Regions from separate parts of the Homo sapiens genome. Here all the other regions are linked to region 1. Evidence: fine-mapped expression QTL. A gene starts in region 1. Each other region holds a variant in brackets. All regions are shown on one strand. Distances are from middle to middle. Region 1 holds the start of CNR1 (cannabinoid receptor 1). Region 2 has its middle 290 kb from the start of CNR1. Region 3 overlaps LOC105377885 (a long non-coding RNA gene). Region 4 holds the start of LOC101928936 (a long non-coding RNA gene). Region 5 overlaps LOC105377882 (a long non-coding RNA gene). Region 6 overlaps LOC105377885 (a long non-coding RNA gene).

What was found. PIP is the estimated chance that this variant, and not a neighbour inherited with it, causes the effect.
Region 2: its variant is fine-mapped to the expression of CNR1 in whole blood (TOPMed, PIP above 0.99).
Region 3: its variant is fine-mapped to the expression of CNR1 in fibroblasts (GTEx, PIP 0.99).
Region 4: its variant is fine-mapped to the expression of CNR1 in whole blood (INTERVAL, PIP above 0.99).
Region 5: its variant is fine-mapped to the expression of CNR1 in nasal epithelium (TOPMed, PIP above 0.99).
Region 6: its variant is fine-mapped to the expression of CNR1 in tibial artery (GTEx, PIP above 0.99).

What each region holds. Positions count from the first base shown.
Region 1 is chr6:88,163,661-88,168,737 of GRCh38, forward strand. CNR1 (cannabinoid receptor 1) reads right to left here and starts at 2,687. Exons shown (of 2, transcript NM_016083.6): 1 at 2,143-2,687. RefSeq lists silencers at 2,364-3,043, 3,104-3,543, 3,614-3,813.
Region 2 is chr6:88,449,015-88,454,091 of GRCh38, forward strand. No RefSeq gene overlaps it. Among named protein-coding and RNA genes, the nearest start is that of CNR1, 290 kb to the left of the region's middle. The variant G/A (reference allele first, on the strand shown) is at 2,793.
Region 3 is chr6:88,336,684-88,341,760 of GRCh38, forward strand. The region is part of intron 2 of LOC105377885 (a long non-coding RNA gene); the gene reads right to left. Among named protein-coding and RNA genes, the nearest start is that of CNR1, 170 kb to the left of the region's middle. The variant C/T (reference allele first, on the strand shown) is at 2,310.
Region 4 is chr6:88,534,427-88,539,503 of GRCh38, forward strand. It overlaps LOC101928936 (a long non-coding RNA gene), which reads right to left and starts at 4,943. Exons shown (of 3, transcript NR_110867.1): 1 at 4,754-4,943. The variant G/A (reference allele first, on the strand shown) is at 2,000.
Region 5 is chr6:87,941,915-87,946,991 of GRCh38, forward strand. It overlaps LOC105377882 (a long non-coding RNA gene), which reads left to right. Exons shown (of 3, transcript XR_001744246.1): 3 at 1-2,129. Among named protein-coding and RNA genes, the nearest start is that of SPACA1, 100 kb to the right of the region's middle. The variant G/A (reference allele first, on the strand shown) is at 2,805.
Region 6 is chr6:88,363,025-88,368,101 of GRCh38, forward strand. All of the region lies in intron 2 of LOC105377885 (a long non-coding RNA gene), which reads right to left. Among named protein-coding and RNA genes, the nearest start is that of CNR1, 200 kb to the left of the region's middle. The variant G/A (reference allele first, on the strand shown) is at 2,867.

The DNA of each region.
Region 1 (5,077 bases):
CTTCCTTCTTGGGAAAATAGGTAAACCGAATCAAAGAGTTTTCTTTTGGAAGAGGCTGAAATATGCCACAAATACAGTGGTTCTTTTTGAGAATTTCATTCCCAGCAGTTTCATCTTGGTAACATTTAACAATTTCACTATTTTACCATTTTGAAATGCCAAAAAGAACACACTGATCCTGCAGCTAGGCTTATTAGAGAAGAGCAATCTCACAGGCAAGACAGAGAGGAACATGGTCCACTGGGAAATGGGTAACAGAAAAAGACAGAAAACAGTGGATAACAAACAAAGCCAAGCACTACTTCAATGTGAGACCTGGTGTTCATCAGAATTTAAAACTTTACACACTAAATAATAATCACTTATGGCTTATTTAAGGTTCTAGTCATAACATTCTTTTTACATACATATATTAATGTTATTAAAATTCAGGGGCATGAATATCTAATTTGCTTTCCTAACAACGAGTATGCAAGCACAGTAATTTTATTTGTGAAAGGCCAGAATTGGGTATTTCCACCTTGTGGCATCATTGTACCCCCATGGACACTGAGAAACACAATGAGACCTCTCCCCATCAGACACTTGATACATACCTCAGCCAAGAGCGCTCCTCGCCTGGAGTGGGAGACATCTTTGAAACAAAAAGAGTCGGTTTACAGTAAGTTCTCCTGATAAGCTAAAATGGATTAGTTTTTTAAAACCATGTCCCACATCAAGTCTCTTGCCCCACTATGGTAACTGCCATTGTGCCTACAAATAAGTGCCTGTAGTATGCAATGTTTAAAATTCTGGAGGTGCATGTCTTCTGCTCATGTATGGATATAATCTGAAAGTAATTTGTCTCACTTAAGAAACTATAAATGGCCTTTTATTTTTATAAAATTGCTCTTAACTGAGTTAGAGAGCGGGGGAGGGGGAGGAGTACCAGGGAAAAAAAGGACAGAGAAAAATCAATTAGTGTATCTTCCCTTGCAAACTGTCAGTAGGGTAGGATTAGAAAAGCAACACTTTAAATCACATAAAGTCCTATGGGAACCTTAAAGGTTGGTTGCTCTGAGCTTCTCAATATTCTGCAAAATAGATTGATGTCAGTGGTGACCCCACTAATACTCAGTGTCCGCTAAGCTTCCTCTAAGAAATTGCATTTCCCCCATTGTTCAAAAGATATTAACTTGGTAATAAAAATGAGGAGAAGTTATGGGACCCACAGAGATATCTTTCAACACCTTTAAAACCAGTAAATCTGTTCTAATCTCTTATTGGATTACATGCCCGAGGAGGCTTACTATATCAGGAAATCAACAACAAAGGCAAGAATAGCACTTATTTGGAGGAAAATAAAAAAAGATGGGAGGCAAAATGATTAATACGTTACTAAACATTTCTTTTGTTTTTTTATCTGTTCAATTTTAAATATCTGAGAGACAATCTATTAAAATCAGAAACATGCATGTTGCTTTTAAACTTCCAAATGACCAAATGACAGTTTCTCATGTCTATTACAGCAAACATATTTTTATTTGAGAGGTGATCCGTTTATGATTTGTAAGCCTTAACAAGAAATGTCTTTTAAAAATGCAACATTAACTTTAGTCATCTAACAGCTAGTTCTGAGTTAAACGGTTCCATCAACATTCAATTTTAGGTATTAGTTACATGGACATTTGTTTTTCCTCAAAGAGAAGTGGTTCCTGTAGCTTTTTATCAAAAGTTTATTATTTGACATACATCTCTTTATATGACATTTACTATTTTACATTAGTCAGTTTCTAGGCTTGCAGCAGAGATCGATGTATTTCCCTGGGAAGACTTAGCTGCTAACATGGTTTATAGGCATTCAGCACCAACTCAAGCGCCCGTTTTTCAAACATGCACAATTACCCATTTTCTACAAACAGACATCAGTGCATACAGAGCCAGGTGCACACACATTCAATAAATAGTAAATGGTAGAAATCTCCAGAAGTAGAACAGATCACAGTTAACAGGCTGGGGCCATACAGCTAAGTAAACACCGACGCACGATTCGCTCACACGGAATAAGAACTCCACGAAGGACACTTGGGGACCACACTGGTCGTACCCGAGGGGGCGGGAGGCGGAAAAAGTATTTCCAAACGCAACTCTGCCAGGTCTTACCCTTCGCATCCCCTGGTCCTCGGGACAGAAGCTCCCTTGGCACCTCTCGCCCAGCTCAGGGGCTGGTTGTCCGCTAGAACGAAATATCCCCCACTGACTACGGAGAGCTCTGCAGGGAGCCGAGGCCCCCGCCCGGGCCAAGGGAAGGCGCTGGCGCCGCGGGAGACAAGAAGAGGCGGAGGCGGAAAAGAAGTGGAGAAGGAAGGGGTGGCAGAGGGAGTAGCGTGCGGGAGGCGGCGCCGGCGCCGGGCTGCTGGCGAGGCGGGGTGGGGTGGAGTGGGGTGTGCCTCCGGCGGGCGGTCAGCAAGTCAGTCCGTCCGAGCGCCGGCGTCCCGGTCTCCAGCGCCCGCCCGCGACAGCGACCGGGACTGGCGCCCCGCTGCTCCGACCGCCGGCGAGCCTCGCCCCTTCCCAGGCTCTTCACTGGGTCCTCCCGCGAGCCCCGCCTGGCCCGGCGTGGGGCCGCCCGTCTCCGCCAGCCCGGGCGCCCGTCGCCTCGTCCCGCTCGCGCAGTCCCTGCCGCTCCCTCCGCTCGCGCTGTCTCTGGCTCCCTCTCGCTCCAGTCCCATTTATGAAGCGCGGTCCCATCACGTGTTAATGAGCCTTTGTCCTGCCCTGGCAGCGGCGGCGGCACAGACCCCGCCGAGGGAACTGCGCGGGGAGGGACCTGAGCGCAGCGCCCGTAGCCCCAAACTTTGCTTGGGGCGGGGGACCCGCCGCGGCGCCAGCCCTGGGGCCAGAGGGGACAAGCCTCTTCGGCCCGCGTCACCTACTTCTCCTCTTCCTCCTCCTCCTCCGCCGCCGCGCTCCCGGAGGCCCCCGCTGCCATGACCTCGCTGTGCTCCCGGATACCCTCACACCCTGACCAGGCCAAGAAGGGGCTGGTGCATGCGCCGCCCACGACCTCGGGGCCATTAATCACACGCTCCCGGGCAGCGCGCATCGCCAACACCTTCCGCGGGGGTCACGTCTGGGGCAGCGGGCTGAGCCGGAAGGGGAAGGGGAGCGGGAGCCCAGAGGCCGAGGCGCGCCGGGCCCGGGGGTGCGGTCTCGCGCCCCCTCCCTCCGCGCAAGGCCGCTCCCGTGGCAGGCGGCAGCGAGCTGGGCCCGGGGCCGGGCTGAGCTTTGGGACCGCGCTGCGCAGCCCCCGAGCCGTTCGCTACCTGGCTGCGGTCGCGCGGCCACCTGTCCTCCGCCCTCGGGGCGCCGCCCAGCTTCGCGCCAGGCGCCTTCTCCAGCGCCCGCCGCCCTTTCCCGGCGAGACCACTCGGGCGCGCCCCGCCCGCCGGTCCCCGATGCAAACAGTTGGGCTCCGTAGGCGGCTGGCTCCGCGCCTCCCGGCCCGGCGCGCCCCCTCCCCGGCCACCCGGGGCCCCGCTCCTCGCACCTTTTCGCTGGAGGAGGACGCCCCACTCCAGGGCCGGACTGGGGGCTCTGGGACTCGGGGGCGGCAGCGGCGGGCGCCTGGGGAGCCGCGGTGTGCTCAGCAGCCGCGGCAGGAATTAGGGGACATGCTCGTTAATTGTTTCCACTATCAGCCGCCGTCTGCCTCCTGTGTGCACGGATCAAACCTTAATTGGTCTTTACATTTATCATGGTGAATTGCGAACCTCCAAACAAGCCTGGGCCGCCGCTTCTGCCGAGGAGGCGCTCCCCTCCCCTCCGCCCCCGGGGCCCTGCAGGGTGTGCGGCGGCGGTCGTGGTTATTTAGACATCTTTATCTCTCGTGAGTTGGATCGGGAGAGGATCGCACGGTTTCCACCTGACGGAGCCACGTCACGTCGGCCACAAGGGCCCCGTGCTGGGCGCTGGGTTCGGTTCCCGGCCGTCCTCTTGTGGCCGCCTTGGCGTTCATTTTATGACACCTTGCCGGTGTTCCCAGACATCATCCCGCACCGCTCCGTTTTACCGACCTCCAGGTCTTCCCGCCCCTGATCAGACCCCAACAGCAACCGTACTATATCTGGACCCTATATTTGAACTACGTGGTGAGAATCTGTGAAAGCGAGCCTCTCAGGGAAAGAAGGAAGATTGTTGAGTTCAAGGTCCTGGAGGAGGGAAGGCTGTAAAACCGTTTTGGAAACGTCAGGCCAAATCGTACAAAGGCTTCCCGCAGAGCACTAGTGCAGTTTTTGAAAATCCCCCTAGACTGCTTTAGACTAGAAGTATTTCCGTCAAGCAAATGACCATTTGACTCCATTGAGAGAGAGAGTCCACCGCTGAAATGATTAAGTCCTACTAGGTGGGTGGTTAGAAAAGGTTATCAATAAAGTTCTGATGGACCCATCGATAGATGGAAGAATGACTGGGAGATAGATAGTAGATGTGGGATTAGTGCTGAGCCTTAACCCTGCTGCTTGGGGAAGGCTCTACTCACAGGCATTTTTAGCCCACCTCCATGGCAGAGACAGCTCCAGCGCAAGATTCAAAGGGAGGAGGCTTCAACATCTGTTGCTTTTTTCTTTTAGGGGTCGTGGTTGTTAGATTTTCCCTTCACCTCACACCCCTGGCAGTAGGAAATATTTGCAAAAATTTTCTCTCCTTATGACCTCGCAGACTCTGATTTCCCAAGAGGCCAGATGACAATAACTTCAAAGTCTCTCCTCCACCTGGCAGCTCAGTTTCAAATGACTGCTAGTAATTAAAAGAAAGGATCAAGGCAGCGCTTCCTCTGACTGTGATAAGGACATCTTCAGTCACAAGAAACCTGGGGGAGCTGGACTCCTAGAATGCTTTCAGGCCACAGGATTTCACTTGGGTGCTACCACCCTCCCCTGTAGCTGGAGGGCGTGAGCTGTTGGAGTGGCAGAGCTGTTCAACATCACTCAGCTAAACAACACTGACACACCCTGGTGGTGCTCCTTCTATAAGGAGCACTTTCCCACATGTTGATCTATACCTTCGTGGTGGTCAGCATCAACCTGTGAAAGGTATT
Region 2 (5,077 bases), 290 kb after region 1:
CAGTGTAAAAGTGTTCCTATTTCTCCACATCCTCTCCAGCACCTGTTGTTTCCTGACTTTTTAATGATTGCCATTCTAACTGGTGTGAGATGGTATCTCATTGTGGTTTTGATTCGCATTTCTCTGATGGCCAGTGATGATGAGCATTTTTTCATGTGTTTTTTGGCTGCATAAATGTCTTCTTTTGAGAAGTGTCTGTTCATGTCCTTCGCCCACTTTTTGATGGGGTTGTTTGTTTTTTTCTTGTAAATTTGTTTGAGTTCATTGTAGATTCTGGATATTAGCCCTTTGTCAGATGAGTAGGTTGCGAAAATTTTCTCTCATTTTGTAGGTTGCCTGTTCACTCTGATGGTAGTTTCTTCTGCTGTGCAGAAGCTCTTTAGTTTAATTAGATCCCATTTGTCAATTTTGGCTTTTGTTGCCATTGCTTTTGGTGTTTTAGACATGAAGTCCTTGCCCATGCCTATGTCCTGAATGATAATGCCTAGGTTTTCTTCTAGGGTTTTTATGGTAAAACCAGGATCTTAAAGAGATATTTATATTATTCACAACATCGAACAGGTGGATGCCACCTAATGTCCATCAACAGATGAATGGATGAAGAAAACATAGTACATATACACACAATGGAATATTGTTCAGACTTTAAAAAGGAGGAAATCCTGTCATATGTGGCAACATGGATGAACCTTGAAGATATTATGCAAACTGAAATAAATCAGTCACAAAAACACAAATACTGCATGATTCTACTCTGTGCATAGAGTTAACGCCGCTGAACCATATGCTTTAAAATTATTAAGATGTTCTACTTTCTGTCTCTATGAATTTATCTATTCTAGGTTCCTCATGTAAGTAGGTTCATACAGATGTGTCCTTTTGCAGACAGTGGCTGTTTAAGTCAGAAGGCAAGGAGGAAGAGAAACAGCCACAGAAGTTGGCAAGGCCTGGCAGGATGGAGAATCCGGAGTTATTGCTTAATGGACACAGAGTTTCTGTCTGGATGATGAAAAAGTTCTGGAGAGAGATTGTAGTTATAGTTGCACAATGCTGTAAATGTACTTAATGCCAATGAATTATACACTGAAAAATGGTTATGATAATACATTTTGTTATATTTTACCACAAATAAAAATAATAATAAAAAAATAAAATTATTAAGATGGTCAGTATTATATGTTTTTTCACCACAGTTTTAAAAATAGGATACATTTCCAAAGATGTGAGCACTGAAAAAGAAATTTCTAGGGTCCAGAACTGAGACTTGGAAGAGGCCATAATTTGAAAGGAACTCTTGGAAAAGACAGAGGAAGAACATGAGAGGTTGAATAAAGAGTATGATAACCACCATAGCTGAGAGAAAGGACGTGCTACAAGGACAACCAAATGAAACAGAGTGATAAATCAGACATCAAGGAAACAGAAGAATCATTACAGACCTTAGATGGGACAGTTTCAACATCCATTAACTGCTCCAATACACAGGAATTTACTGAGCTCCAACTATGTGCCATGCACTGTTCCAACAGGGAACAAATGGGGCAAAGTCTCTCTTTTTCATTGTGTTTGCAGACAACCAGTAAATACATGCCGACCAGTAAAGAAAAATAAACAATCCAAGAAGGCTGATGGGGGACACTGTTTTGCTATTTTGGTTTTCAAAAATAGGGTGACCAAGGGGATATGTGAGCAGAGACCTAAAGGAAGTCATGTGACTCAATAGGGGAAAAGCATTGGGGTAGAGGAAAGAGCAAATGCAAATGCCTGAAACATGGGGCACGCTTAGCCAGGAGACCAGCATGGTTAAAGCACAGTTCACAAAGGAAGAGAAATAAGAGATGAGCTCTGAGCAGTGGTCAGTTGGCTGTGGCACCAGTGACCAAGAGGGAGGGGTATGAAGTTCACAATAATTCCAACAGTTGCTAGGGAAATAAAAAAGGGATGCAATAAACTGGTGTTGAATAGCTCATTGGTGTCACCAGAAGTTTTGTTGTTTGTTTTTGAAGAAAAGTGAGATGTAAACATTTTAGAGGGGGGAGAAGAAGAGATTGAGAGAGCTATGAAACAGGAGGGAATTATTATAGAAGAAAAATCCTTTCAAAGGGAAAAAAAGGAAATCCAAAACAGAGTTAAAGATATTTGATTAAGGAAAAGGAAGAAATGCCTTCATCCAGAGGTCCTGGATAAAGATTCAAGAATAAGCCTGCAGCCAACCGTGGCTGCTTTCAGCATCACTTCTATACAGCATAAAGTCAGACAGTATAAATTTAACTCAAATAGAAGACAGATGGTCCTAGGAGTCTGTAGGCATAGATAGATATTTGAGGTGATTCATTACAGCCAAGTAAAGGAAGCTTCTGGTTGTTGACTTAATAAATTACTACAGGATCTTTACAAAAACTGAGGCTTGGCTAGATATGGATCTAATATTTTTGGTCATCACAACAAGAAAAGGGGAAATAGTTTGATCTTCATTTTCCTTAAGGCTTATAAAAAGATTAAAATCGTCTTAAAAGGAATCTAAAACAAATACTTCACAATAATTTAGAAAGTTTATATACACACTAGAATACATTAGCAGCATGATTTTATGGGGAGAATCATGCCAGATAAAACTAAAAAGCTCCAAACACCACAATCTGACTAAATGTTTGAGAGATTTAAATAATATTAGACCATACTATTCCACATCAGGAATGTTAGCTTAAACAGTCTTTGCTTGATGGTCCCTCTGTCTTAAAAAGGTTTGCAGTAAACAAGGTACTTTGGGTTTGTGACAAGCAGGCAACACA[G/A]TGTCTTGAAATTTAATGTGTGTGTTTGGTATAATTGACTAGAGCTCAGGCCCAGTACTGAAAACCATTAGAAAAAGCACAAAGAAGATAAAAGACAAACTGACAGCAAAGTGCCTTTCTGTAAACCGTAAGGCAATGCCTACCAAGTACCAAAATGTCTTTTGTGCAGGCCGATAGCAGTCTTTACCATCACTAACTTTTTTTTAAGTTGTGAAATACAGTATTCCTACAAAAACATGTACCAAACATACATGCATAGTTTAATGAATGATAATCATCCTCCTCCCTTCACGTCCCCCTCAGGGGTAACCACCATCCTGAATTTTATATAGCTCATTCCCTTGCCCTTCTTTATAGTGTTTTCAGCTATGTATGTATCCTCAGATAGCATATTGTTTAACACCAGCAATGGATTTGGGATCCTGTTAGACTTACATCTTACCATTAGTATTGACCAACACTGAGATTTTCACCATCTAGCTGGTATGAAATTACACTTCATTATGGTTTTAATTTACATTTCCTAATTACGAGTTTGAGCATTTTTTCATGGTTTATGGGACAGTTGGAATGGTTCATCAGATAGTAGCTTTTCCCATCTTTGTTTTGGCTTCTTTTATTTTTTTTTTTCATTTTGATTTCTAGGTGTTCTTTATATAATCCTTTGAGTTATACATCTTACAGATTTCCCCTAGTTTGGGGGCTGCTTTTTCAATAAACAGCCATTCTTACTATTCATATAGCCAAGATTTACCAATCTTCCCCCTATGGTTTTAGCCTTTTCTATTTGGTTGGGCTTGCTCTTGTCCTAGCAATAATTCAGTTTTTATAAATCATGTGTGCGACACATTAGTATGTAGAATGTGTATTTTCAAACCATTAAATGTATTGTTCTTTAAAGGTCCATTAGATCAAGCTTAATTGTTCAGTTAAAATCTTCTTTAGCTTACTAATTTGTCTGCCTGATCTATTAGTATTTTAGAGGGTACTATAGTAGTAAATTTATCCATTTTCTTTATAGTTCTGTCAACTTCTGATTTATATATTTTGACAATATGTTATTTTGTGCATACAGTTTAGATTTGCTATATCTTTAAGATGAATTAAAAATTTTTAATGTTCTATTGTGGCTGTCTTTATTATTGCCCTGTAGCCATTTTATCTAATATTAATATAGCTGCCTCAGATTTCATTTGATTTTTTGTCTGATATATCTTTTTTCTATTATTCGATTTTAGATATTTAGATATCCTTGTAATGTATGTGGTCTATTTAAAGTAGTATATGGCTGGGTTTGGGGGGTTTGGATGGAGGTTTTATTAATTTATTTTTATTATTATTTGTTTTTTTTAATCCAGCCTGTTCATCTTTATATTTTACCTGCAGAGATTAGTCCATTTATATTAATTGTGATTAACAATATAAAGCCATCCCCTGCTTAATGTCAATAATCTACTCCTAAAACATCAGATATTTTGCCTAAAAACACTAACTAGGAGTCTGTTTTCTGTTATTCTATATAAGAAAATGTATAACATGTAATGCATTATATGTTAACCCTATCTCTCAACTAGTTTTCTTAAGTAAAAACATTGTTTTCTAAAACAAATAATTCCATCAAAAAGTGAACAAGTTACATGAATAGATATTTCTCAAAAGAAGATATACAAATGGCCAAAACTAACCTATGAAAAAATGCTCAACATCACTAATCAGGGAAATCCAAGTCAAAACCACAATGAGATGCCACCTTACCCCTGCAATAATGGCCATAATTATTAATAAAGCCTAAAAACAATAGATGTTAGTGTAGATGTGGTGAAAAAGGAATGCTTATACATTGCTGGTGGGAATGTAAATTAGTAGAACCTCTATAGAAAACAGTATGGAGATTTCTTAAAGAACTAAAAATAGATCTACCATTCGATCCAGCAACACCACTACTGGATATCTACCCAAAGGGAAAGAAGTCTTTATATCAGCACGTGCATGTTTATCACAGCACAATTCACAATTGCAAAGATATGGAACCAACCTAAATGCCCATCAACCAATGAGTGGATAATGAAAATGTGAGCTATATATGTATATATACACACACACACACCATAGAATAGTACTCAGCCATAAAAAACTTGGATAGACCTGAAGGCCATTATTCTAAGTGAAATAACTCAGGAATGGAAAACCAAATTCTGCAAGTTCTCACTAATAAGTGGAGGCTAAGCTATAGGTACATAAAGGCATGCAGACATAATGGACTTTGGAGACTCAGAAAGGGAAGA
Region 3 (5,077 bases), 170 kb after region 1:
ATCAATAGCTTACCAACCAAAAAGAGTCCAGGACCAGATGGATTCACAGCCGAATTCTACCAGAGGTACAAGGAGGAACTGGTACCATTCCTTCTGAAACTATTCCAATCAATAGAAAAAGAGGGAATCCTCCCTAACTCATTTTATGAGGCCAGCATCATCCTGATACCAAAGCCGGGCAGAGACACAACCAAAAAAGAGAATTTTAGACCAATATCCTTGATGAACATTGATGCAAAAATCCTCAATAAAATACTGGCAAAACGAATCCAGCAGCACATCAAAATGCTTATCCACCATGATCAAGTGGGCTTCATCCCTGGGATACAAGCCTGGTTCAATATACACAAATCAATAAATGTAATCCAGCATATAAACAGAACCAAAGACAAAAACTACATGATTATCTCAATAGATGCAGAAAAGGCCTTTGACAAAATTCAACAACCCTTCATGCTAAAAACTCTCAATAAATTAAGTATTGATGGGACGTATCTCAAAATAATAAGAGCTATCTATGACAAACCCACAGCCAATATCATACTGAATGGGCAAAAACTGGAAGCATTCCCTTTGAAAACTGGCACAAGACAGGGATGCCCTCTCTCACCACTCCTATTCAACATAATGTTGGAAGTTCTGGCCAGGGCAATTAGGCAGGAGAAGGAAATAAAGGGTATTCAATTAGGAAAAGAGGAAGTCAAATTGTCCCTGTTTGCAGATGACATGATTGTATATCTAGAAAACCCCATTGTCTCAGCCCAAAATCTCCTTAAGCTGATAAGCAACTTCAGCAAAGTCTCAGGATACAAAATCAATGTACAAAAATCACAAGAATTCTTATACACCAATAACAGACAAACAGAGAGCCAAATCATGAGTGAACTTCCATTCACAACTGCTTCAAAGAGAATAAAATACCTAGGAATTCAACTTACAAGGGACATGAAGGACCTCTTCTAGGAGAACTACAAACCACTGCTCAATGAAATAAAAGAGGATACAAACAAATGGAAGAACATTCTATGCTCATGGATAGGAAGAATCAATATGGTGAAAATGGCCATACTGCCCAAGGTAATTTATACATTCAATGCCATCCCCATCAAGCTACCAATGACTTTCTTCACAGAATTGGAAAAAACTACTTTAAAGTTCATATGGAACCAAAAAAGAGCTCGCATCGCCAAGTCAATCCTCAGCCAAAAGAACAAAGCTGGAGGCATCACGCTACCTGACTTCAAAATATATTACAAGGCTACAGTAACCAAAACAGCATGGTACTGGTACCAAAACAGAGATATAGATCAATGGAACAGGACAGAGCCCTCAGAAATAACGCCGCATATCTACAACTATCTGATCTTTGACAAACCTGAGAAAAACAACCAATGGGGAAAGGATTCCCTATTTAATAAATGGTGCTGGGAAAACTGACTAGCCATATGTAGAAAGCTGAAACTGGATCCCTTCCTTACACCTTATACAAAAATTAATTCAAGATGGATTAAAGACTTAAACGTTAGACCTAAAACCATAAAAACCCTAGAAGAAAACCTAGGCATTATCATTCAGGACATAGGCATGGGCAAGGACTTCATGTCTAAAACACCAAAAGCAATGGCAACAAAAGCCAAAATTGACAAATGGGATCTAATTAAACTAAAGAGCTTCTGCACAGCAAAAGAAACTACCATCAGAGTGAACAGGCAACCTACAAAATGGGAGAAAATTTTCGCGACCTACTCATCTGACAAAGGGCAAATATCCAGAATCTACAATGAACTCAAACAAATTTGCAAGAAAAAAACAAATAACCCCATCAAAAAATGGGCAAAGGACATGAACAGACACTTCTCAAAAGAAGACATTTATGCAGCAAAAAGACACATGAAAAAATGCTCACCATCACTGGCCATCAGAGAAATGCAAATCAAAACCACAATGAGATACCATCTCACACCAGTTAGAATGGCAATCATTAAAAAGTCAGGAAACAGCAGGTGCTGGAGAGGATGTGGAGAAATAGGAACACTTTTACACTGTTGGTGAGACTGTAAACTACTTCAACCATTGTGGAAGTCAGTGTGGTGATTCCTCAGGGATCTAGAACTAGAAATACCATTTGACCCAGCCCTCCCATTACTGGGTATATACCCAAAGGACTATAAATCATGCTGCTATAAAGACACATGCACCTGTATGTTTATTGCGGCACTATTCACAATAGCAAAGACTTGGAACCAACCCAAATGTCCAACAATGATAGACTGGATTAAGAAAATGTGGCACATATACACCATGGAATA[C/T]TATGCAGCCATAAAAAATGATGAGTTCATGTCCTTAGTAGGGACATGGATGAAATTGGAAATCATCATTCTCAGTAAACTATTGCAAGGACAAAAAACCAAACACCGCATGTTCTCACTCATAGACAGGAATTGAACAATGAGAACCCATGGACACAGGAAGGGGATCATCACACTCTGGGGACTGCTGTGGGGTGGGGGTAGGGGGGAGGGATAGCATTAGGAGATATACCTAATGCTAAATGACGAGTTAATGGGTGCAGCGCACCAGCATGGCACATGTATACATATGTAACTAACCTGCACATTGTGAACATGTACCCTAAAACTTAAAGTATAATAATAATAAAATTAAAAAATAATAAATAAATAAATAAATAAAAAACAATCCAGTAGGTGTTAGGAGTATAGATAAGACAAGATTGGCCGTGAGTTAATAAGTGTTGAAGATGGATCACGGGCATAGGGGATTCACTGGACTACTCTATTTTTTCTATGTTAAAACATTTCCATAACAAACATTTAAAAAGAAATGACAATGTTTTCATTCTATACCCCTGAATGCCTCATTTCTAGTTCTCCCTAGGTAATAGCTATTTGTAGTTTCTTATGCATCTTTCCGGAGTTTTTATGTGATATATTCTTTTTATAATTAGAAACATTAAAATATATACTATTTTTAAAAAACAGATTTCTTGGGAAATACATAACTTTCAACCTAGCAGTTGACAGTTATTTGAGTTCATTCTACAAGACTAATGCTCATTTCCTTTCAGACTTCCATGGACACAACAGCAGATCATCGGGACCAGTGTAAGTGCTTGAAAATAATCACAAATAATGACAGCAGACTCATTCCTGGTGACTTGTTTCCACAGGAATGAGAATAAATCAGTGGCAGAAAACTCTTAAATTTCAGCCTGAGGGTCATAGGAGGCCATTCCATTTTCAAAGGGTTGTGGCTATTTATAGCTTTTATGTTTGGAGGGGATGAAAAAATATCAAACATAAATTTATTTCATTGAAGAACATTACCTAATCCTAAGTATGAAAACCAAGCCATTACTCAGGGAGATCTGACAAGCATTCTGCCTATACATGTGGCCATGGCAGTGGGTGGCTGCTAAACCCCATCGTTTTTAGCACAGCTGTGATTGTTCTGAAATTCTGCCATTCCATAGTATTTTTGAGTGAAAGGTAGATTTACATGGGTTTTAAAGAATGCTGGTTTACAACTTTGAGTCATACTGAGAGGGCTTTCTGTGGGATAATTGAAATGCAATGCATTGAAAAGCTGAAAATTGGGATGAACTCAAATTAATATTTGATGAGAAGCAATACATAAAGAGTTTGAGGAAGGATTGCAGTCTCAAAAACTCAAACGAAAATAAGTTTAGGGAGAAGTTATTTAAGGATATTTTAAATAATTTAAATAATTATAGTCAATCCAAATGCTGTTGGTACATCTGTCTTTTTATTGTTTAGTAATACTAGATTGTGGTTGCAGAACAATACGTGTTCTCTTCTTTATGCACATCCAGCAGCATGAATCTTGGCAATATATCATCTGGGAAAATTGTTTTTTGGGTGATGAATTGCCAGGTTAAGGGTATTATATTCCTGCTATCATGCCTTCATTATCAGAGCATTTAAAAAATATATTTCTATATGATACAGGAGTATTTTTGTGATAAGAATTAATATAACACCTTAACAAGCAGTTTAAGAAAGTCAACATGATAATTTTAGATTTATACTCAACAATGTTATATAAGCAATGTAAATAATAACATTAATAGCAATATTTTTAAAGCTGTGTAAATAATACCTACTTATAAAAGTGAAACACAAGCAAAAGAATAATACAAAGGCATTTTTAGCAACAAATTCATCAAAATAGACAAGGATAAAGAAATTTCATGTGTAGCACCAGAGGACAGCATAATTAATTTCACTTTTTTTGGTTTGGAAAATCCATGTGTGTGTGTGTGCATGTGTGTGTCAGAGGGTACAAAGGCAGAGATACTAACGTGTATGCAAAGAAACCATAAACTCATAGTTTTTTTGCTCTGGTTTAAAGCAGTAAGTAATTACTCAAGCTATGCAATGAATTTTTATGTAGGTAAAATTCAGGACTTCTTTGAGATGTGAGACATTTAAAACTAATTAATAGTTATTAATATTGGAAAATTCCCAGGCTTTAAAAAAGTATTTTTTTTAATAGAAGCATGTGGTAAAGACAGAGTGTTAGAGAAGGGCTCACCATTTTCTCTGTTAAGTGAAATACAAGACAAAGCAATGAAAAAGGACCACTTACAACTACCATGAAGCCAGCTAACAAAAAGGACAACTACCAGCCAACAAGTCCCGATCAAAGGACTCGAAGAGCATAAACAATGGGGCGGGCATGGGGATGAAGAACGGTGGATGTTTGTAACATGGAAAAAAACTCTTGGCAGTGTTGCTTAGATTATTGTGTTGTTTCTTTATATTTTTCCTTTCAATTCCACATTTCTCATTTAGAAAACACTACGCAAATATATACAAAGGCAATACTATATTTCACCTTTTGTTTACTTGCCCTGAGACTTATTTATAATGTAATATTTTCACAACTACTAGCCAAATGGAGTTCAAGCTTTTAAAAGTATAAAAATTCAAAATGTACTTACTAATTTTTAAGCTTTTGTTGTGTATATTTACATGTCCACACATGTATGTTTAGACTATTGTTTTTGAGTATTATTCTGATAATCTTTCATACTTGT
Region 4 (5,077 bases), 370 kb after region 1:
TACTGCTATAAAGAACTACGTGAGACTATGTAACATATGAAGAAAAGAGGTTTAATTGACTCACAGTTCAGCGTGGCTGGGGAGGCCTCAGGAAACTTAAAATCATGGCAGAAGGCAAAGGGAAAGCAAGACATGTCTTACATGGCAGCAGGAAAGAGAGAATGAAGGGGGAAGTGCCACACTTTTAAACCATCAGATCTTGTGAGAACTCACTCACTATCACGAGAACAGCTGGGGGAAATCCACCCCCATGATTCAATTACCTCCCACCAGGTCTCTCCCCTGTCATGTGGGGATTACAATTTGACATGAGATTTGGGTGGGGACACAGAACCAAACCATATCAGCCATTGTACGAATTCAAGTGACAGGTAGGAGAAACTTGAATCTAGGGAGCTGTGTGAGCTCAGCAAGTAGACAACAGAGTGCGCAGCTGGTTGAGGCTGGAAGATAAGGCTAAGAAAGCAGGTTGGAACCAGACTGTGAAGAGTCTGAGAAGCTGTGAAGACGAGTTTAGACCTTATTCTGTAGACTTCTAAGAGCCTGGGAGGTTTTTCATCCGTGGCCTGATGGGACATGTGCTGTGGAACTTTATGGTAGCGTACAGACAGGCCAGAGTGCAACATGTGTACAGGTTGAAAAGCTCGGCTGGAAGGCATTTGCCCTTCCAGGCAAGGGAAGGAAAATGAATGAACTACAACAGAGGGTTCAGATGGACTCGAGAGATGCGTCTGAGACACAATTAGGAGTCTTCACAGCCAAATTGTTGGGCAAAATAGTGGAGAAAATAAACCAAGGAAGGCTTCGAGGTCCCCAGCCTATGAATATGGATAGGCAATGGTACCATCCATTATTAGAGGAATGCTCAGGAGAAGGGCATGCTTGAAGCAGGACTGGGATGTCTGGAGAGTGAATTCTGTTCTGGAACTACCTGGGGATTCCCTCCTGGGGATTCCCAGGAGCCACTGCATATGTGGTTCTGCAGCTCAGAAGAGAAAGCAGGTTGGAGAACCAGTTGTGGGAGGCACAGACAGTTAGGGGTAGAGTGGATCAGATCCTCCAAGGAGAGTGTGCACTGCAAAAGGAGAAGTGGGTTGTGGCAGGCCCCCCAGGAACACCAATAGCACATAAGAGCTTCTCCATAAGGCCCTCCCTGGACTTCCTTCCTCTGATCCAGCAATGAGGGGGCCCTGTGGTTCTGCAGCTGTCTGCCCTCAGAGTCCTCTGGGCTGCCTCCAGAACAGCTCTCCCACGAGGAATAATTCTTTCAGTTTATCATCTCTCAAAATTTATTTTTCTGTTTGCTAATAATATTCAGGCCCAAAACCCTGTCTCACCAGCTTGAGTTTAATGTGATGAAAATCCATATTCACCTTGAACAGGCTATTTCAGATAACAGATATTTATTTGATCAGACTCCATTATGCCCTCAGCTACCTCCCTGCCTACAACAAAAGAGGTTCAGCCCAAGGTTTCAGAGACCATTGTTCGAGGTCCTTCAGTCCCTGGAACACAGTAACCACAAGAAGAGACAGATTAAAAATTAATAAATGTGCTGTACTCGATGTCTCGCAGTCAAGGATATTTAAGTAGATAAAAGAGCAAGGGGGGAGGGGAAGGTTTCATGGCTAATGGTTTTCTTTATAATTATTAGGTGGGAAAAATGGGTGAAAGAGGTGGGGGAAGGGGCAAGGCAATGAAGACAGAACTTGCCTCTTGCATTAAGAGGCAAGGCCAGCAGAGACGAGGCTCTGTGGACAACTGGGGTATTTTTAGGCTTGGATCGTGCAGGGGGCGGTGCACAATGAAGTGCGGAGGACGGAGACGAAGGAGCAGAACGTTTCCACCCAGGCAGCCTCGCCTAAAGCCTGGCTGGCCCTGACTTGAATAATGAGGCTGTTTGGACTAGCCTGAGGCCAGTAGCAGAGACTTATGTAACAAAACAAAATTTAAAAGTCTTTGGCTTATCTACCATCCTCAAAGAAAATAGGAGGCTTCC[G/A]ACACTTTGTCATTTTTTGTAGCCATGGAGTAGTTTAGTGTAGCAGCACTGTTGTGGTTACCATCAAAGGAAACGTGTGTTTCCTAATAAGAAGTAAATTAAAATGCCAATAATCAAATAAAACCACCCCCACTCCAAACACACACACATTTGCTGAACCCTGAGTGGAAAAGACAATACTCTTTTTAATGAACTACGAGATCAACGAGATTTATCCCCACCTCCCTAAAAGAGCACCTAGTTAACTAGAAGCAAATCTAAATATTTTCTAATACTGCTGAAGTATTGCAAAACCCAGAACATCAAGAAGTATTCCAAATCAAGCCTGAAGCAAACAAAGATTGTGTTTGGTTCAAGTCGTGCTCATAAAATATACCACTATGCTATTTTAAGGAAACAACTAAAATGTTGTAGATTAACTCCCTATAGAGAACAGAGTACGCTGAGACTGAGGAATTGGTTAAGCATTATATTATCTGTGAAACAGCCTGGCTTTTGGTAAATTAGATCAGATGGATAGAGCTTGGGGAGCTGCAGAGCCAAAATCAGGGCTGGGATGGACTCATGGGCCACCAGTCACTGTTTGGTTTGGGACCATGAGCCAAAAGACCATGGAGAGACAAGGGTACCTCCCTTTCCATGAGGTGGAGCTGATGTGAGGGTGCCTTTTCAAAGCACATAATCCATCCCAAAATGCAGAGCCTGCTGAGGTCCCCAGCACAGTGGCTTGTGACAGGACTCATCCCAGGGAGCTTTATAAATCTACAGGTGCTCAGATCTCACCTTCAGACTCAAATCCAATGGCTGGGGGTGGTGGGGAGGTGAAACAGCTCTGGCATCTGTGGGCATCAAAGCTCTCCCAGGTGGTCTCAATGTGCAATCATGATGGGAGCCCTGCCGTTGCCCATCCTGTTCTGAGGTTGAGTCCCCTTCCCTTCCATTCACATTTCTCCCTAGGCCAGGCAATGCCATTAATACCCCCTCCTCCACCAAGTGTCTGCAGATGGTGCAAAGCCCAGTCACGCTGAAAGCTGAGAGTCGGTGATTGTCTCTAAGTGAGGAGTGATGCAATCTGATTTGTATTTTAGGAAAATAACCATGTAGGCAGGATGGCAGAAGGACTGAGGAGGGAGAGCCTGGGGGCAAGGAGACCAGTTGGGCACTTGACCACTGTCAGCTTTCAAGGCCAGGAAGGAAGAGGGGCCAGGGGTTGGAGGATATGGGAGAGAGTCCAAAAACATGTCTGAGGTGGAACCAACAAATTTGGTGATTGTATGTGAGGGAGCAAAGGCAAGGGAGGAGCTGATGGTAAAATTTCAAGATGGCAAAATAAGGTTAAGAGTGACAAAATTAACTAAAAATAAGATCAACTGTCTCGAGGAAGGAGAAAGGGCACCCATCAGCCTGGAGTGCTTGTCCTCCTTTCTCATCTTAGGCCCTGGAAGGGCTGGAGCCTGTTAAACAGAGCCGACATTAGACCTGGTGCCATGAATTGGTATTGCAATAATTTGAATTGGTGTCTGGACTCTGAACTTCTAAAGGCCAGGAAGCGATCTGGTTCACCTTTTTTAGTCTCAGCACTTAGCCCCATAAGCATGTAATAAGCGCACAACACATTTTTGCTACAAAGACAAGTGGCATAATGGAACTGGGAACAGCCTCACTGGGAAATCTCACTGTTGTCAAGCCAGCCTTATGACAAAGATAGTTTCACATAAAGAGGAGCCAAAACTCCTCATTCACCTGGGCTGCAAATGGCTTGCATGCCTATGATGATGCCAGCAGTGTGCTTTAGGAGGAAGTGTTAATGAGGAAAGGTTTTTAGGCTTGAGGTGTCATGCTTCAGTTTCCAGTGTGGGCAGCCGCTGACAAAAGCCGCTGTCCATGGTAGGTACTGCCTCTGAATGTGGGAGAGGAGGGAGGCAGTTGGGGCCTGAGACCACAGCTTGCTTCTGTCCTTGTCATGGACATGCTGAGGCAGAGGTAGAGGGGCATGGAGGGGCTAGAAGTGAACTTAGCCAGCAGAACCTGGGGAAATGGGGGGCAGGCCACTTTGCTCAACAGCAGAGGAAACCCCTTTGAAGGGGATGCATGGTGGTGGCTACAGCTACAAAAGGAGAGCAATCGTTTCCCAGAGCGCAGGGAGACAGATTCTATGTGCTTCTTCCCAACTGCTCTTCTTTGCTTCAGATCTCCCTGCAACACTCCTTTCTTTTCCCAAGTTTCCTAAAATGACACCATGAATATGTTTAATTAATTAGTCAATCAATAGCCAGTGATTATCAGACAGCTGCTATGTTCGTAGTTAGAGGAAGCTGCCATGTGCAAACTGGGGGCTGACCCAGACCAGTATGTTTCTGACCTCAAACGTGCCTCGGGCAGCATTTGACCTGGTATTCCCATCCCACCTCTCCTTACAGATGCTTTCTAAGTGGTTTAATCCCTCCTGTACCAAGAAAGTGATCATGTCATCTACAGTTACATTTTTCACATAAAATCGCCCTGTCTGATTTTTTCTTTTTTACTCTGAGCCATTTCCCTCTCTCCGTCACCACCATCCCACTCCAATCCTCATGGGAGACAGTGTCACATTTACCAATTAAAAGCACGATATCCATTCTCCTTTGTCTGCAATACTGTGAAGGCTTCATTTTCACATTTCTCTTTGGCTGGAAGTGTTAACTTCCAGTTGCAGGAGGTGAGGGTGGGTTTCCCTTTCCCTGTCTATGAAATTCAGTATACATTTATACTCACTTTCTTTGCCCTGCAGGTTTGCCTCTTGAATTTCTCAGAAGTCAGCAAAATTCTGTGCTAGGCAGAGTCTAGGGGAGCTGTTGTTGACAGCTTGGGAGGGCGGAAAGGACAGAAAAGGGAGAATGGGGGAAGAAAATAAATAAAGAGGAGAGCAAAAGGAAAAATAACTCTGGAGGCAAAAGGGAACTGTCCAAATGGTTTTGGAAGCAACTCACTAGCTCCTGTTGTGTGCCATGGGCTTTTGTTCTCAATGTCTTGAAGTCAGTCACCGCCTTATTTATTCCGTTCTGCGAGCCTGATCCATGTCTAAGCAGACCCCCTGCA
Region 5 (5,077 bases), 220 kb before region 1:
TAAGCAAAGGCTTCGATATACAGAACTGCTCTTCCACACAGATTCTCTTTTATTCCTGGAAACTACTGGACACCCAAATGAAAAAAAAATTTCTCCCTCCTAACATGACTCATCACTTTAGATCAATCTGCTAACTGGTACTCTTCCATTGCCATAAAATAGTGAAGGGAGGATTTGATGACAGAAAACCTGGGTTCAAGTAAATATGCCATTTCTGGCTGTGTGATTTTAGGCAAGACACTTAACCTCTCTGAGTTTAGCTTTCTTGTGGGTAAAATACAGAAAATGGCAACATATATCAGTTATGATAATTAATTGAGCTAATGTATGTGAAGGTGTATTTTGCCTCTAGATGGTCATGCAGTTTAGGACATTGTGTCTTCGAATGGGCTAAGGAGGAGAAGAAAGTGAAGAGAATGCTGCTAATGAATAAAGCTGCTTCTAAACCCCATCCACTCTGCAGGAACACACAAATACATCCAGATTTATGCAGACTGGTGTCAGGGGCTGCATTCATTGGCCAATTTAAATAATTTTATATCTTAAAATAATTATGGCATTTGTAGTAGTGTTTTCCAACACATATGAGGTCTAAAACAAAATGCCCCCAAAGACAACCACATGCAATCATTGCATTCATTTTACATTTTTAATGAATCTCCCTGCTCCCAGAGCTCTGTTGCTATTCCCAGCAGCCCGGGTTCTGTTTTGTGTTCCTTCGTGGGTACACAGGGCAACCTGCCTGTTTTCTTGTCTCCATATGCATTTTAACTTCATAAGAAGACAGGATATGAGAAGTAATCTCCTCTCAGGAGGTTTTTATTTCTACAAATTACCAGCTACATGTATCTTGTTAAAAAAATCCATAAATAAGATAAAACAGGAGTATGTGTTTGTTTCTTGCCTAAAGCAAGCAGTGCAGCTTTTGCCCTGCTACTTGCTTACAATGGATTTAGAGACTGAGAGTAACTTCCCTTCCCTGAGCCTACAGTTCGTGCTCTGCCCTCCATATTCAGAAAACAGTATTAGACGGAAGAGAAGGGGCCGAACATCCCTGGCTTCATCCAGATGGAGCAATCCCACTCCTCAAAGCAATCTGAGGGCTAAGAGTGATTTAATAAAGATTGCTAAGAATGATTTAATAAAGATTGCACATGAGCAGCACTAGTAAAGAATTTGGCAACATATAATACATATAACACACTTAGGAAACACATACCAAATGTACACCACCTATTTCTGCAGCACGTAATCTTTGGTTAGGCTGTAACTGCCTTAAGGACTTTCCCATCTAAAGTTGTATCAAATATGAGCCTTACCATAATGCTGTCAGGCCAGGAAGGCAAGTATTATTCCTAACGGTGGCGCACAAGGTCCCCTACCATCTTATACCACACTGCAGTGTGCCCTCTCTGCTTCCTAGGTTCTATCCACACTGACCTTTCTGTTTCTTGAACACATCACGTAGTTCCTACCCCAGGACCTTTGCATTGGTTGTTCCCTCTGTGGAACACTCTTCCCCTGGGTCTTTAAATGACTGTCTCCCCACCATACAGCTATCAACTGAAATTCCTCCTACTCAAAGAAACCTTCTCTGGCCACTTTAAAGAAACACTACCCTCATCTACCCCTTCCCCAACACATGCTTCTCTATTATTTTACCTTGTTTATTGTCTTCAAAGGCCTTACCATTCTCCGGAATCATTGCCTTTATATATTGGTCTATGGCCTCTGTTCCCCCGTAGAATGAAAGGTCAATGAAGGAAGGGACTTTGTCTAGTTCACTGCTAGGTTCCCAGCATCTAGAACACTGCCTGGCACACAGGAGACACTAAAAAACTATTTACTGAGTTCATTTCAGTTTGGTCAATGAGGAAACCAACATCACAAAGATGAAGTGAATTGCTGGGATATAATTAGGGCAAACCTGGGACATCTCTTAACTTTCAGACCAGTGCTTTTCGCTCTAGGCAAGGAAGTTTACTACTTGCCCATTGGGTAGCCCAGAATTAACATGTTGTCCTTTGGCGTGACACAAGAAGTTGAGATTTCTTGTCTTCAGAAGTAGGAATGGACAGTCATCCTGTCAAGATATGTGTGTGTAAAAACTTAACCCAGGGCTCAAAGGTGCTGTTTTTGCCGTATTTTCCTGGGATTTGGGGGTTTGGGTCCCATCTAGAGTGCACTAATTTTGAGAAGCAGCGTGAAGGGATAGAAACAAAAAAACTTGGCTTGGTCCTGAGCAGGCCATTTATTGCTGGGTGATATTGGACAAATCTATCACCTTCTCTTGAAATTAAGGATAACGTAAGCTTTTACATGGCTGCCCTGAACTGAATAACCCTGAACACATAAAATACCCAACCCAGGTCCTGGAGTACAGGACACATTCAGCGCATACTTCGATGTTTCCCTTCATCCAATTTGTTGTTGTTTTCAGAGACAGGTCTCATTCTGTCACCCAGGCTGGGATGCAGTGGCATGATTGTAGCTCACTGTAACCTTGAACCCCTGGCCTTAAGCAATCCTCCCACCTTGGCCTCCCAAAGTGCTAGGATTATAGGCGTGAACCACTGTGCCCAGTCCTTCATCCAATTTATGATTGAAGCCTCTTTCCTTTAGGATATGAGCTGAGTTTCTCTCTCTCTCAAGCTCTCAACATGCCTTGAAATCTGCTTTACTATAAACGAAAGTGGCTGATTGATATCTGGTGATTAACTAATGATGACAGAAGGAGGGAGGTGACTCTCTGGGGTGACTAAAATGTTTACACTGGGTATTTATCATGCTGCAGTTGAGCTGGA[G/A]ATATGATCTTGGGGAAAAAAAAGGACTAAAAATGTGACTGCCTCAGTGCAAGTCACGGCTAGACAGAGAGCTCGGCATGCCACCAGCACTGACCTCATGCTGATGGCTCTCAGCACTGAGAAGGCCTGTCAAGACGTGCCAGAGGCTCCACCATCAGGCCAGGGCCAGAGGGTGAAGATAAAGCAGCGTATAAGAGGTAAAAGAAGAGAGATCTAGGAGTTGAGTTTAAATTCCAGGTCCTCCGGCTCAAATTTTGCAGAAAAGGTTTTTTTCTTCTGTTTTCCTCATATACCCTGGAGTTTTTAAGCATGGCATATTTGGAATACAGTTACCACAGGAGAATGCTGGAACTCCAGGGTGAAAAGAGAGGCAATATTTAAGAAAATATGATGTTCCGCCTCTATGAAAAAGCTTGACAGTGTTAACATGCAGCGAATTCAATAGGTGTAATGGGTCGTGGTAAACTACATCCACAGGCTTCCAACCAGCTCTGAGAATAATACCTGCTTTCTCATTGAGTTACAGCGAGAATCAGTATGGGAAAGTGTTAAGCTCTAAGTCACTCCATAAATACTAGGTGTTTTAATGATGACAATTTGGCGGTGAGCAGGGTCGGTGCAGGGAAGATGTCAGAACAAAGTAGGCTGATCTTCCAACGCTCACTCCTGCATTGGCGTCTGGCTCTTAGAGCTCAGTTACTTACTCAGCTGTAAATAAACTCTGAGATGCAGCAGCTCAGCTTCATTCCCTCCCTGCCCTTCTCTTTTGCCTGAAAACATCAAGGGATTGGATGGAAACAAACCATGCAGCAAAAATGTGCTGAAGAGGAAAGAGACTTGTACACTTGAAAATCGCCTCTAAATAGTACTTCTCAGAGGTAAAGCAGTTTAAAAATATCTGTGTATAAAATACACTGAATCAAACAGCACAGAATCTACTGAGCATTGGTATAGATCCCTTTCTTCATCAACACACATTCTGTGACAAAAGTATTTATTTGACTACATAGGATTCAGGGCAGAGAAATAAAACCTGCTGTTAACTGAAGGAAGGCAGCAGCCTTTGTTCTGGCTCAAACGATGTTGCTTGATGGTAGCATGTAGACATACGAAAATAAAGATGATCAAACAGAAGAGTGTGATATATAGTCGTACATTTTGTGAGAGAAAATCTGTACCATTCTGGAAGAGGTGCTTATAAAGGTTCCAGGTGCTGCCGCAGCGCCTGGGTCCACACATCATATGACTTGACATCTTCATTTACCATTTCAACCCTCTCATCATTTCCTCTGCATCTCTGGCTCTTGGGCTTAATTCTTTGGCGGACATGCTTATTCTCTTTACTAACAGGCAGTCAATATTACATCATCCAGTTCTCTGTGATTCCTTTCACACGATGAGATATATTTGAGCAAATTCTGTTGGGACTTGTTTTTCAACTCCACGATGCCTGGCAAAGTGAGGCAGTGAGAATGCCATGCAAAATACTGAAACTTGATTGGATTGCAGCCCAGACGGCGTGACTACAGCAACATGCTTACCCTTCTTTATGTGAGCTGGTGGCTGTAAGACATCCATATGCTGCTACTTGGGCTTCCACCCAAGATGAATAAAGAATGAATGAGGGGGAAAAAGATAACAAATTAATTAGGATTGTCTGTTAATTGAGAGGGTTTGACACGGCTACCTTGTGTTCAACAGATCATGCAACCAGCAACATATTAGTTCATTATCAAGAAAGCAGAACTTGGGGTGAAAAAAATACAGAACAGCACTACAGCAGGGTTTCTTAGTCTTAGCACTGTATACATTTTGGGCTGGATAATTCTTGGTTTTGGGGGGGTCTGTCTTTGGCATTGTAGGGTGTTTAGCGGCATACCTGGCCTCTACTGACTGGATGCCAATAGCACTCTCTCCGCAAGTTGTGAAAATCAAAAATGACTCCAGACATTAGTAAATGTCCCCTGGGGAGCAAATTGCCCCCAGTTGGGGACCACTGCAATACAGTAAATAATACACATCCTGTAGCCCCTCTTTATGTCTCATGTCTTTCCTTTCCCAGTGACCTACTTGACAGGAGCTTGTTGTAAAGCTACAATGAGAACATGATACTTAGACATGAGACAGAAGTGAGATGGTAGTTTACGAGAATACAGAGTGTGACACTTCTTCAAATCATCGTGACTTAACCATGTCCTGCCATACGCAAGGATGTCTTCCCTGGCTCTGAACATTCAGAAGAAAGTGAACTTGCTGAAAGCCTCGCCCCTATG
Region 6 (5,077 bases), 200 kb after region 1:
GCCATGAATATGGAAACTTATGTTGTCCTTGGCCACAAATGTTTGAAACTCTCCAATCTGGACTAGTTGTCTTTTCTTCCTAGGATCCTCCTTCACCAAAATCTGGGAATCTTTTTTTCTGACCTGTGTTTGTATGCTTTGTTTTCTTCATGCACCCTTCCTCTTTCTTGATATGCTTTCTGCTTTTGGTTTGGTACGCCCTCCAGGAGCCTCCTGAGAAAATATGAGAATAAAATTTTTGTATGTCTGAAAATCTCTTTATTCTACCCTTTCCCTTGACTGATAGTTTGGCTGAGTATTGAAATTCTAAGTTGAAAATAATTATCTTTCTGACTTTGAAAGCATTGCTCTAGTGTTTTTAGAGGCTTTGTGGAGGAATCTGAAGCTGTACCAATTCCTATTCTTTGCACTCCTTCATTTGTAGAGAGCAAGAACAAATAAAGCCAGGCCACAGTCATCCTTACCATTCTCCTACTCCTTGTCTCAAGGCAAGATACTCACATGGTCTGGGCTTCTCTCCTGAGTTGGAAGTGACTGCTGATCTATGAGGTCCTTCCCAAATGTAGGGTTCACTTGTGAAGATATAGATAAGAATATTCTAAAACCCCTCTGAGTAGGAGAATTGTTTCTTATCATCACTGTTTAATAATCATGAAAATTATTGCTTTTATACTTCTTATCTTTATCCAACCCTTTTCTTGACTCTATTCACTGATTTGGGGAAAACACATTAATTCAAACTAATAGGCATGTCAAGATTAATGAAAAGTCTAAATTACAGAGCATATTCAAACCATTACCGGCATCTGTGTTGCAGTGGAGTGAACTTTGGATTATGCATCTGAAGACCTATGTTCAATGAAGTCCCAGCTTGGCTATGTCATGTGTTCTTGGACTAGTCCATTGTCCTCTTTGAGCCACTGCTTCCCTCTCTATAAAATAGGCATGATGCCTATCTCACAGGGTTGCTGTGACAATAAAACATATCACATGCAGTGGTTTAGTACATTGTACAACAAAGCATCACACACATGCGGGAAGCGCTCTCACAGTCATTTAAAGCAGATAAATGATACTGTCTAGTGTACTTCCTTGGGGAACCTAGTTTAATATATAGATAAGAGTGTGTTACTTGCATATTTGTTAATATTAATGTGCTTTTAGGTTGCTTAGTAACTGTTCTACTTAAGTTAAATTTTTTGCTATAATAATTAGTTTAACAAATCCTTTTTTCCAAGACATCATAAAACTAAACTTTAGCCCAAGTCCTTGTCTAAATTATTAGAAACTTCAAATACATAAATTTTATTGCAGTTGTACTTGTTTTATCATTTAGAAAAACATAAAATTGCCACTCCAGAGTAGCAAGATTTTTCTGGGAATAACATTACTGAAATAACACTGAGGTTTTGGTGATTTGAAATAAATGGAACCCTGTTATTATTACTTGAAGCTGAATTGGGTTTTTTAGTGGAAAATAAAATAGGACAAAAGTAACTTAAAGGAAGAAGTGGCAATTTTATTTATTTTTTTATAAAATTGTACAGACATATCTTATAAAATGCCCCAAACAAAGCAACAATGACTATAGATTGGATTGAAATGGGTTTACATGCCAGCTACATTTGACATTATACCTCAAGGACTCTTGCCCTTTCTATGTACTGCTGTTTAGATCAAAGAAATAAACAAGAAGCATCTGAGAATTCTGTCATTCAGGAGGAAATATAGTTAAATACTGCCAAACATATAAAGGGGGATTCAACCAAAATTGAAACCTAATGAGAATATAGGAGTCATCTTTTTTCTTCCTATCACAGATTTCTCTGATCAAAGTGTCCTTATTTCTAATATTATCGCACATTTGTGAAAAGAATTTGGTATAGTTCAGTCTTTGATCAGGTAATATCATTTTATTCCACAAATATGTACTGAGCACCTGCTATGTACCAGGCACAGTTCTAGATGCTGTGAATGCAGCAGAAAATAATATATACAACCTTTCTTGCCCTCGTGGAACTTCCATTCTAGAGACTGTCCAGAGACCAGTCAGGTAAGAAAAGCCTGGGTGGCAGACATTCCAGAACATGAGAGGAAGTGATGATCATGAGCCAGTATCATCTTTCTCTTGGTGCTTAAGGGAACTACAAGCCTTTGGCTCCAGTATATTTTGACTCCAGACCTGATTCCAAAACTTCTACTTTTGTATACATCTGGAAGGCAAAGAGAGACTCAAGGCACAGTGGTCTGAAGAACCTGGGTGCATATGAAGGAATCGTATCATCTAACTGGAAAACTCACTGGTCTCCTCTTTCACCAAAACAACAAAGGCAAGCTGCCAATTTTATCTGGTATAGCAGAAGTATTGCAGGACAGCCTCAGTTTTTAACATTCTGTCCTGTTCTCCTCATGAGTACACACATACTTGTCACACCATGTTCTTCTAACTTTGGGATGGGAAAATGTGGCCTCTGTCACCATAAATCAAATACTGGAGCAGCAGCTGAGACATTTTAACTCTGCAGTGCCAGCACCATGTAGCAAAGACACCAAGGGGAGATAGACTGATTAACAGCCACAGTAATGGCTGCAATCGTGAAGAAAAGATCCATAACTGTTATATGCCAGGAAGCCTCGTGGCAACTGAGGAGTAGAAGAGGGGACTTTCAAAACATCTAAAACCATGTTGAGAGCCATTAGGGAGAACCAAGCACTACCTAAACAGTAAACTTTTCTTCCTATTTTCCTATTGCTTCCCTGATTGGGTAAGAGAGAGCTCTGATGTGCTTACTGAAACTCTCCGGTTGAAATTCTGGCCACATCTAGCTTTTCCTGCCCTGCTCTTTTCCTATTGCAAATTCACCAT[G/A]TATAGTCTTCCCTAAGAAATGAGGTCATAGAGGCAGAACTGGAATAAACATCCATCCAGTCACAAGCTCCTCAATATAAAATAGTCTCAGCTTTGTATCATTTGACTAGAGGTTCCATTTCTTCTTAATAACAAAACAACAAATTATATAAATGTGTATTTGCATTTTTGGAAGTTCACTTTAGTTTTGTAGGAATGGAGACTGTCTTGTTCTCTACTCTCCTTTCTGATCACGTCCAGAGATGTGAAGTCTCGCTTGCTCAAGTTATTTGATTTTGTTAAACATAACGTCACAGATTTTTTGAGCCAAATCAGATTTTATAGGTCACCTAGTCCAAACCCTCATTTAGCAGATGAAGAAACTGAGACCCAAGGAGGTTAAGTAACTATCCCTGGTCACAAATCCAATCAATAGCAGGGTGAGGGGTCACTGACCCAAACCCCACAGTCATTCCACTGAATGCAAGAACACACCGAATTACATTGCCAACAGACTTCTCATATCCCCAAGATCCTCCAGTGGTTTGGGGAGGAAATGAAATCTCTTACAGAGAGATTTCACAGGGAGGCAGGAAAAGCACTCAAGTACATAGAAGCAGCAAGATCCCCCGAGAGTGACCTGAAGCTTCCCATGTATTCAAATGCATGGGGGCATTTTTGACCACTCTTGGAGCATTTCCCAGCCTGTAGATGGTACAGTTGGGCATAGAGTAATTTAAGGGAGTCATCTTTGTGAACTCTTGTGCCTGAGGACTTTCGTTCATATCAGATGCAGGAATCATCAAATCCTAAGATCTGTATGATTCTTGATACATGATATAGCCCTAGCCAGTGGCTAGGACATGTCATCACATGTAGTATAGGAAGCTTCATTTGGACAAGCATGAACAGAAGCCCCTTTTCATCACAGTGGATTTCTAAAACTGATTTTGTATAAAGATGACTGCAATAAAATGGGCTATAGTTGCCATAGAAACATGATTTCTAGAGTTTGGTAGCAGTTTTACGTGTGTATGTGTGTGTGAGTGTGTATGTGTGTGGGGAGGGGTGTATTCTTGACCAAAAAGGAGCTGCCATAGACACGTAGCACCTAAAATGGGTAAAACCAATTTGCTTACACCATAGTCATGCATCATTTATTTGGCTTAGAGATGATTTATTAGCTCTCACATGAATTAATTAAATATTTAATTTACCGTCCTCTGGTTTGCCTCCATAGAATTTAGAAGGACTTCGAGATGTTAATTTAAATAGCTCAGTTCTCTTTAATATGCTACCCACTAACTTTGAACTGCTACCTTTTTTCCTCCTTGAAAAGTGTCTCCATAGCAAAGAGAATCATTTAAAATTATTCTATTGCCCAGAATTTCTTTTAAAGTGGTGGGTACTTAATACATTTTTGTTGGTGATAGTAACTGAAAAATTTCTGGAAAACATGGGCTAATCCTACAATTCTTCCCATCTTCTCCTGCCCCTTCAATTTATTTAAAGCTACAAGTAAGGGCAACAGTTCACCTGTCAGTCAAAAAGCACCGTGGCCCAGAAACAGGAAGAGACACACCCTTCATGGTCATAGAACCTACATGAACTTTGTGGCTGAGCTTTTTGACCACCTCACATGCCACTGAAAGCATCAAGCCAACTACCAGACTTTTAGAATGGGCATTTTATTAAAGAGTTCACAGATTTGAGATGGGGATAAGCAACAGTCTAGCTGTACTGGTTCTTTCTTTCTTCTGGAGTGGGTACACAGTCACTGGAAGTGCTGAATACAAGGGAGTGAGTGTGGAGAATTTAATTATGGGTGTTGATTAGGCAGCTGGATAATTGGGACTGACAATGGTGTCTGTATAGCACAACAAGGCAGAAATGGTCCTGGTCAATGTAAAATTGGTAAAATTTGCTGGGTTGTTTTCTCTCTGAAGATCTGAATTTTGACTACAGTAGTCAAGTATTCCCCTAATTGTGTGTTCTGTCTGCAAATGTATTTAGGAAGATTTTTTATCCTGGGACTTTATGAACAACTCAAAGTATAAATGGTTAGTAAAACTGAAAAGGGTTTAATGTGGCTGCTAATAAATAATATAAATAAAAATGATAATCCTCTAGCTTTTATCTGTTGTCCATCCTAATACTGCCAAGGATGGAGTTAGCAGGTACATTCATGTACTGAAGGGGCAAGGGTAACAAAATGTACCCTTTCTGTAAAAC